Linked DNA regions of Homo sapiens: region 1 is linked to region 2. Evidence: fine-mapped expression QTL. A gene starts in region 2. The other region holds a variant in brackets. All regions are shown on one strand. Distances are between the middles of the regions. Region 1 holds the start of ERAP2 (endoplasmic reticulum aminopeptidase 2). Region 2 holds the start of LNPEP (leucyl and cystinyl aminopeptidase).

The links. PIP is the estimated chance that this variant, and not a neighbour inherited with it, causes the effect. A credible set is the group of variants that fine-mapping cannot tell apart.
Region 1: its variant is the best candidate, but not a certain one, in a credible set for the expression of LNPEP in whole blood (INTERVAL, PIP 0.85).

What each region holds. Positions count from the first base shown.
Region 1 is chr5:96,873,572-96,877,956 of GRCh38, reverse strand. It overlaps ERAP2 (endoplasmic reticulum aminopeptidase 2), which reads right to left and starts at 1,457. Exons shown (of 19, transcript NM_022350.5): 1 at 1,430-1,457. It also overlaps a transcript of ERAP1 not described here. RefSeq lists enhancers at 559-768, 1,139-1,348, 1,519-1,668, 1,689-1,818. The variant G/A (reference allele first, on the strand shown) is at 2,547.
Region 2 is chr5:96,933,592-96,937,976 of GRCh38, reverse strand. LNPEP (leucyl and cystinyl aminopeptidase) reads right to left here and starts at 1,897. Exons shown (of 18, transcript NM_005575.3): 1 at 1,803-1,897. The coding sequence starts at 1,821. It overlaps LOC124901030, which reads left to right and starts at 1,902. Exons shown (of 1, transcript XM_047417984.1): 1 at 1,902-3,886. The coding sequence starts at 1,902. The coding sequence ends at 2,606. It also overlaps a transcript of ERAP1 not described here. RefSeq lists silencers at 1,364-1,443, 1,574-1,643, 2,584-2,653, 3,094-3,213 and enhancers at 2,234-2,543, 2,844-2,983, 3,294-3,423, 3,484-3,693.

The DNA.
Region 1 (4,385 bases), 60 kb after region 2:
CAGCATTAATTATCCAAACAATTACTTCAATTTTTCAATTTGCAATATTAATGCAGGTGACAGGTATTGTTAAAGGAACAAAAATAAAATAATATTAAAGATACTTCTCCCTCTTTTTAAAAACAAGCATTAAATTACTGCTACAAATCTCAGTGTTCCAAGAACGTCTGATAAGTACACTCATAATTGGTCTATTAGCTTGAATTTTGGAGGGTTTAAAAAAAATGGAGTGGCTTATTATGTGGGTCTGAGGCTTTGGAATCAGAGTGCCCAGATTCCAACGCTAATTCCACCAACCTCACCTACGTGATCATGGGCAAAGTTTTTTACTTTTTGAGCTTCATTTATCTCAACCATAAAACAGTGTAATAATTATACCTTCCTCATGCTGGGATGATTAAATGAAATAATTCATGTGAAGAAGTTGGCACAGCACAGCATGGAGCATATAGGAAGTAAGTAATTAGTGTTGGATATGAAATTATTATTGAGGTTATAACTTGCATTCAATGGCCAAAATGAAGGAGTAGCTCGCCCCCACTTGTAGCAGACACTCCTAGAGATGTACTTGATTGATAAGAGTAGAGAGAAAAGCTTTACTCACACAGTCTTTAACTTTAGAACTAGTAAGGGTTGTAAAGGCCAGCTAGTACAAGTCCTTAGTGTTCAGATAAAGAAACAGGACCGGGCACAGTGACTCAGGTCTGTAATGCCAGCATTTTGGGAGGCCAAGGTGGGCAGATCACCTGAGGTCAGGAATTCGAGACCAGCCTCACCAACATGGTGAAACCCTACCTCTACTAAAAATACAAAAATTAGCCGGGCATGGTGGCACATGCCCGTAGTCCTAGCTACTCGGGAGGCTGAGGCACGAGAATCGCTTGAACCAGGGAGGTGGAAGTTGCAGTGAGCCGAGATCGTGCTGCTGCACTCCAGCCTGGGCGACAGAGCGAGGCTCTCTCTCAAAATAAATAAATAAATAAATACATAAATTAAATTAAATAAACAGATGAAGGAACAGGATGGTGACTTCTCAAAATCCACACAGGAAGTCTGAAACAGAATCAGGACTAAAACATAGCTCTTTGCCCTTTGGTCTGGTGGGCTTTCTATTATACTGCACTGTACCTTAAATAGCAATGCAGTGAACAAAACATCCTGGGATTGAAGAGGCAAGAATTGTCACAAACGCTTAGAAAAGACAAAAAGATCTCTGAAAGAGAGTCAGTGCAGCAGCGTCTTAGATCAAGTCCCAGCCTCAACTGCATACACTTTCTAATACAGCCGCGCCCAATTCACCCCAGTCCCCCAGAACCTTGCCTTAGATTACAAAACCTTCTCAACACAGCAGTTCTATACCTTCAGTTCATTATTCTTATTGAAAAAATCTAATTTTAAGACAAACCCAAGAGAAATGTTGATACGTTACCTTAAATCATGCTGCTGCAGATTTGACTGAAGGGGAATTTACTTTTGCTTTCACTTTCTGTTCTAAGATTCAGAACTTTGCATGCTTCCTGAGTACAGTAAGTACTAGCTGGTTCATTATCACGCAGGTGTGAATGGAGCTTAGGATAAGAGCTTTATTTCAAAAAGGACAAGAAACTTTTTGTAGAATGCACAAATAAGTGGCTTTGGAGTAGAAGCCAAACCATGGAAAGAAAGGATCGCCAGTGGCTGCCACTTCTGCTGTTATCACCTCCCTTCCCTTGTCCCCAGGGTAAAGCCTTCAGAACATAGTTTATGTTTTTTAGTGCCAAGTTGTTGTCTTAGGAATTGATCTTGAACTTCTCCTTGTGCTGCATCCTCAGTGCTATGAAATCTGACTTCTGCCCATCCACCCCACAAACGTAACTCCAAGCTTACCAAACACCTCCCGGGCAGCTTCTGTGATCTTTATCAGAGGTGATTATTCTCAGATTTTCCATGTCTGTAACCACCCTGTCTCCTTGGGCACGAGGGGACTGTATCTCATGCTCATCTCTTTGATCTCTCTTTATCTGCCTGTTTGAGTTGGGCTTCAACTTCCTCTCTGCTCTGAATACAGACCTTCCACAAAGATGAAACCTCTGGCCTTTGCTCTGCCCTCTCTTTATCCTTTCCAGTACCCAGATTTAGCATTTATCCCCATTCATCCCACATTGCTCCCATTGTGATCCCTCCTTCAAGGGTTCTGCTGCTGTAATTCCAACAGCCTGATGGACCAACAGTACATGGATGTCTAACCCTAACCTGAACCAGAACCCTGACAACTCAAATAGTGTTTTCTTTCCCCAGATAAACACCCTTTGCTTTATATGCTTCCAGCCTTCTTCCATTATCTAGGATTGAACCATATAGTTAGTTACTTTGATTCTGTCCCTCTCCAATTTGTTACCAAAGCCTGTTGATTTTTCCTTTTCTTTTCTTTTTTTTTTTTTTGAGATAGGGTCTCACTCTGTCACCCAGGTTGGAGTGCAGTGGTGCCATCCCAGCTCACTGCAGCCTTGACTTCCTGAGCTCAAATGATCCTCCCACCTCAGCCTCCCAAGTAGCTGGGGCTACAG[G/A]CATCCACCACTACACCCAGCTAATTTATTATTTTTTTTTTATAGATGAGGTCTTCCCATGTTGCTCAGGCTGGTCTCAAACTCCTAGGCTCAAGTGATCCTTCTGCCTCAGCCTCCCAAAGGATTGGGATTACAGGCATGAGACACCGCAACTGGCCTTTTTGAATCATTTTCAATCTCTTTCTATCCAACTAAGAAAAAATCCCACCGCTTATTAAAGTAGTCCAGGTCCTCATCCTTCCTCACAATGGCCTTCAATCATGTCTTCCCAGCTTCTCAAGCTCAGCTTCTTGCAGTTACTTGTACGATGCCACCAGATTAATCCTTTCAACTACTGCTCGACCATGCCTCCCCCACTGCTCAAGATCTTTCCTTGATTTCCCCATTTACAGAGGGGCAAGTCCTAGTGTGGGAACCATAGTGGCCTACTGGCAGCCTATATGCCAGCCTATAGTTGTTTTGTTTGAATCACAGTCTATTAAATGGCAATACATCCATACAATTTCTATTGTCAAGTGAAATATAACAAGCTTAGCTCTTATCATGTTGCAGACACTCTTCATAGACTTGTATCATGTGCCTTGTCCTGCTGTGGTTTGTGTTTGCAACCTATGTTTGGCCCAATAGCACATGTTGCCATGATTAGATCCTAGTTAAGTCTCAAGCTTTAATTTTTCCACCTTTCTACATTTTATTATTTCAACCTGAAAGAACAAGTCGATAAAGTAGAAGGGGCAGAAAGGAAGGCAGTAGCCTACACCTAAGGCCCGAAACATAAGACTGAATGGGGTCCCTCAGAGCTGCATTTCATGTAGTGAGAGGGGCACCACAGGAAGGGGGATGGCTGGAAGCCAGTGAGTGGGAAAAAGAAGGGGACAAAGACGACAAAGAAGAGGAGGCCCCAAGGGCTTATCTACGGACTCTAACTCTGCAGGGCGTGGGGGCAGGTAGAAGAGGTATAGGAGGCTGGGAGTATTTCTGTGATATTCCTTGTCACAAGATCCAGCCTAGCTGTGGGTATGTGGGCGAGTGCATGTGTGTTTTCAGAGCTCTCTCCTGCCCACTGGAACAGAAGTGGTGATGGAGAATGAAGAAACAGGCTATGGAATTGAGCTGCAGAATCCTAGAAGTGAAAATTGAGCCAGATTCAAGTACTTGTAGCTTATTTAAAAGAGTTTCTCAGCAAAATGGGCTCCTAACTTTTCTTTTCTTTCTTCTTTCTCTCTCTCTTTCTTTCTTTCTTTCTTTCTTTCTTTCTTTCTTTCTTTCTTTCTCTCTCTCTTTCTTTCTTTCCTTCCTTCTTTTTTTTTTCTTTTCTCTTCTCTTTTCTTTGGGATAAGCTTTGGGAAGTTTATTGCTTAGGGAATTCATGTCTCAGTTTTCCATTTCATCCTGGTCTCTGAATTGTCTCTTACTCAGAGAGACCCTCCTTGTTGGCTCTAAGGCAGTACCACTCCTCCCTAAATCCACCATCACCAAGGCCTATCCTGTCAGCCTGCTTTTTGTTTCTTCTTAGCTTTGGTCAGTTCCTTATACTTCATTATGTAGTTGTTTGTTTGTTTTCTTGTCTCCTCACTAGAACATAAGCTTTTTGCAGTAGCAACTCTGCCCTCTAACTGCTGAGTGCCCAGTATAGAGCAGAGCCTGCCATATAAGAGACCCTCAACAAATGTTAGTTGAGTGGGTGAATGCATTTTCAGTGTTTTAGTTTTTGTTTTTGTTTTTTGTTTTTCCTTAGATTGCCCAACACTTGCTTCATGCTTCAAGCACATCAGGGTGCTTTCCACTTCTGGATGAGCCAAGTGTTTCCTCAGCTTTTCTGCACCTTCCTCTCCATTG
Region 2 (4,385 bases):
TATGCACTGCCAAGCTGTCTCCAGCATCAACTCTGAAAGATAGGAAAGAATCAGAAATCCAATTTCCTACATGAAAGTTGAAGCATTGCTTCTTTTTTTGTTCTCTTCTGTGGGATTTTTCCATTGTCCTCCCAAATGTGACAGTTTGCAAATACCCACATCTAGAAGCAATCTAGAAGCATATTCTATAAGAGAAAAGACACCAATTTTAAAACTTGAGAAAGTACTTTAATTCTGTAGGCAAAGGTTCAGCAAATCAGCTAGCACTAATCTTGACCAAATGGGTGAGTCAGCCTCATCACAGAGATTTTTTTTTTAATTTAGATGAAATTTCACATTTAAAAACATGGTAACTCCAAGCATTCTTCCAAAAACAAAGAATGAACATTGGAATAGTCACTTACAAGGACTTAACGACTTGTATTAAACATATTTTACACTAAAGTACTAGATGGTCTCTAGTTCATTTTAGCTCAAACCTTCCTTAATTCTTCGAGTAACTTCACCAGACTATTCTTTAAGTCTTAGTAATTACAAATAGAACCTGAATGAGAAAGAAAATTCAGAATTAAAGTTGTTATCAGTAAGCCTAATTAAACAGTGCAGACAGAAAGATGGCAGTAGAATAAAGCATTCTACATTAGGAATAGGGAGAATATAATCAGTAGTTCACAGCCCCATGAATGAAGCACAGCATACAACAAAGTCTGGCTGGGATTTGGGATAAAGTGGACAATATCTGTCTGCTCTTGAGTGGTAACTAACAAACTAAACAGGGATATAGACTGTGGCCCCTATTAATGTGATACTGTACCTGAAGTAACCAACCACACTCAGCAAAACATGTCAACCAGAGACTGAATCCTCTTTTAGTGAGTCGTCTCCCTTACTGGCAGTTTTCCTACTTTCTATCTTAAAAGGGAATCCACACACTCAACACCGCAAAACGGTAAGACATCTCACCCCTATATTGTGGCTCTGGCACTTCTGGTCCGCACAAAAGCCATGGTTCTAACTAGGGTGGGATTTATGCTCCCCGTTCAGTGAAGGGCTGTGGCTGTTTGCAGGGTGCAGGCTCCCTGCGTTGACTCTCGCTTCCTGTCACACAGTGGTATCACCACCGTGACGGACCCTTGACATTAACAAGTCTTTGACTGAAAAACTGATGTGATCTGCAGCCAGTGAGGGGATGCGTGGTGGCCCTGCCGAGTACCTCGGCAGGGTCAGGAGGGTGGCACTGTGGCCAGGCACCTCCGCGGCACCGAGCGAGGTGAGCAAGCCTTTCCTGAAGTTTCCCTTCCTTCCACAACATTAACCTGCCAAGCCTCCCACCCCCACCCCGCCCTATTAGGAAAAGTCACGCCGGCAGCTCACTGAAGGGCAGGGGGACAGCTCCTGGCGCCCCACAAAAGTTGGGCTCGGCAGCTGCCACAACTTAACGCTCCTACAGGAGAGTCGGGCCGACACCGCCTCCTCCGGGGGCAAACCTGAGCTGCCAACTTTCCCACTGCCCACTCCTCTGCGCACAGCAGCCCAAACTTTGCTGTTTGCCCACCGGCCGCACCCCGGGCGAGCGGCGGCGGCGCTGACCTTCAAGCCAGCCCCGGGTCCCGCACTGGCCGCCGCCCGCCCCCCGAACCTCCCTGCCTCCCCCAGATCCCCTCTCCCTGCCTCCCTCAGCCCTCGTGGGAAGCCCGCGGTGTTGGGGGAGACGGCTGCAGCCCGACCCCGCGTGTCACGACTGCCCACGACCCTCAGGGCTCCGGAGAGCCCGGGTCCCGGCGCCTCGGCAGCCCACTCACCATTGGTGAAGGGCTCCATTTTCCCCCCGCCGCGGCTCCTTACAGCCGGAGCGCCCGAGCTTCCTACTCCGAGAGCTGAGGCGGCCCAGCTGACTGAGCATGCCCAGCGCGGCCTCCAAGGGCTGCCAGGGAGGTGCCGCGAGGGGCGGCGCCGCTCCGCCGTTCCGGGTTTTCGTGGCAGCTGCAGAAAGAGCGAGGGAAGCAAGAGGGAAAAGCACAGTCAAACCCCCTGCTGCTCCGTGGACAGGCGAGGTGGGAGCGGGTTCGCGCTGGGGGCGGGGCCTAGGCGGGGCCGGGAAAGCCCAGCCCCTACCTGAAGTGGACCCGGCTGCGGCGCTCTCCCCGGCCGGGAACGGTGTTCAGTCACTCAACAAATGTGGAGCCCTACTGCGACCCGCCCGATCCCGGACGCCGAGACACCCGCACTGCGCCAGAAAATCATGGTCCCAGTCCCAGGAGCGGACATTCCAGAAACAGACCATAAATAAACACAGAAGACACACGAGTGTAAAGTCAGTGCCCCGCTGCGAATTAAATCGGGGTGATGTGATGGCGAGTGAGTGGGTAGTTAATTCGGATGGCTTGGTTAGACGAGGCCTCGCTGAGCAGGTGCCACTGAAGCCGAAGTCTGAAGGCAGAGCAGGAACCTGCGGGCGAAGGTCGCTATCTGAACCGCGAATCGCTGGTTTCCCTGGGGAGGTTGGCCGCGGAGGGATCACTGCTCGAAGGACCGAGGGAGCGGGCGCTGTAGGTGTTTTCGGCAGAGATGCCCGCCCGCATCAGAGTGCCTCAGGAGGGCGGTGAGGAGGAGACGGAAGAGAGGGCGGGGACCTCGCAGGGCCGAGGGCGCCCTGGGGTCCAGTCCCGGGGCTGGCGGCTGCCTTGCGGCCTCTAGGTGCGGGCGGATAACAAAACCCGGCGCCGGATCGCCCGGCCCGGGTCGCGGGCGCCGCAGGATGTGGGCAGAAGGCCCGCCTGTTCCGAGCCTTAAATCAACACCTGCGGTTCCCGGGGGTGCTACCACTGGGGCCCGCAGCAAGGCTCCGCGGCGCTAGGCCCGAGAAACCGAAACTCCCCTAGTCGCCCCTGCCCCCCAGCACTCGCGCCATTGCCTCCAGCCCCGAGCCACCATTGTTTCCAGTGCCAAATCGGGCAGCCCCGCTAGCCTCCGAGGCCGAACCGCCAGGGGCCCCATAAGCCCCGAGGAGGCTCGTCGGGAACCGCTTCCTTATCCTCTCGGTATGCGCATCGCCACCACCCTCGCTGCAGAGGCCGCCGCCCTCCCAGCGCGCCATCACCGCCTCCTCTGCCTCTTCCCCTCCCTCAGCCCCGGCCCCTGCATTGACTTGGCTCGGGCTGCGCCTCACTGCGCCTGCCAACTGTCACACGCTCTGAGGCTTTCAACAGCGGGGCGCCAGGGACAAACAAGCCGCGGCAAGCGCAAACAGCCTGCTCAAACAGGGACGGCCAGGGTGTTGTTTGACCAGCACTGGAATTGGAAACTAGGTTTCGAAGAAGTCAAATCGAAGTACAATATTGTATTTTAAACTGCCTGTTGTTATTACATCCCTCACAACGCACGCTCTACTTGAAACTTCCAGTGGATACCAACTGCACTTAGAATAAAAAATGAAACTCCTTGCCTAACTCTGGGACCTCATCAGCACATACTCACCATATTTTGGTAACAAAGGCCTTCATGCTGTTCCCGGAAGTCGCCAAGTTCCATCCATCATTGTTAATAATTCCTTTTGCTCGCTCCTCGCACAAGAACTGTTTCTTCTGCTTAGTGCTTTGCCTACTGATTCCATCTTGTCATTTAAGTCTCGGCTCAAATGTCACCTCTGCAAAGAACCCTTGTCTGACCATACATCTAAAATAGCCACAAACACTCTATAAAGACTTGGCCTTGCTTTATTTCCTTCTCAGCACTCATCACTGTCTGAAACAATGTTTTGGATTTGTTGCTTATTATCAGTCTCCCTTCTCAAGAATGCAAGCTTTGTGAGGGCAGAGTCGTAATCTTTTTTAAGGCTGTATCCCCAATGCCTGGGTAAGTATACAATAAATAATTTTTGCATGAATAAGTGAAGGACATAGTGGTGTTTAGAGTTCACTTCCACTGCTGCAAACCCTTCCAGTTAATGACTCCATACTGAATGATGTGTTTGATCAGTACAGAGAAGGTGTCTGTATCATATGATACCTCAGAGCTGCTATCTCCCTAATGTGTGAAAGGTAATCAGAACCGTTAGGCTGGCCCCTAGTACTGACATTTTAGAACCAAAAATAGTGAACCACAGGAGCTGATGTATCCCAGTTCAGATATTATATAGTACACGCAGAGCTAGATTTTGTTAACATACTTCACACATTGTATTGCTTAAATAAGACGCTCTTCTCTATATTTTAGGTCATGTCATGTTCCCTTGAAGTTCCTTTTGCAACCAAACCACTTAGTATAGGAGATATTTAAAACACTGCAGCTTGTTAAATCACCTCACCTCACTTCACCTGTAACCTACAGTCTATCATGCTTTTAAGTGTGAAACATGTTACCTTGTGTTTTGTTTTACATATCCC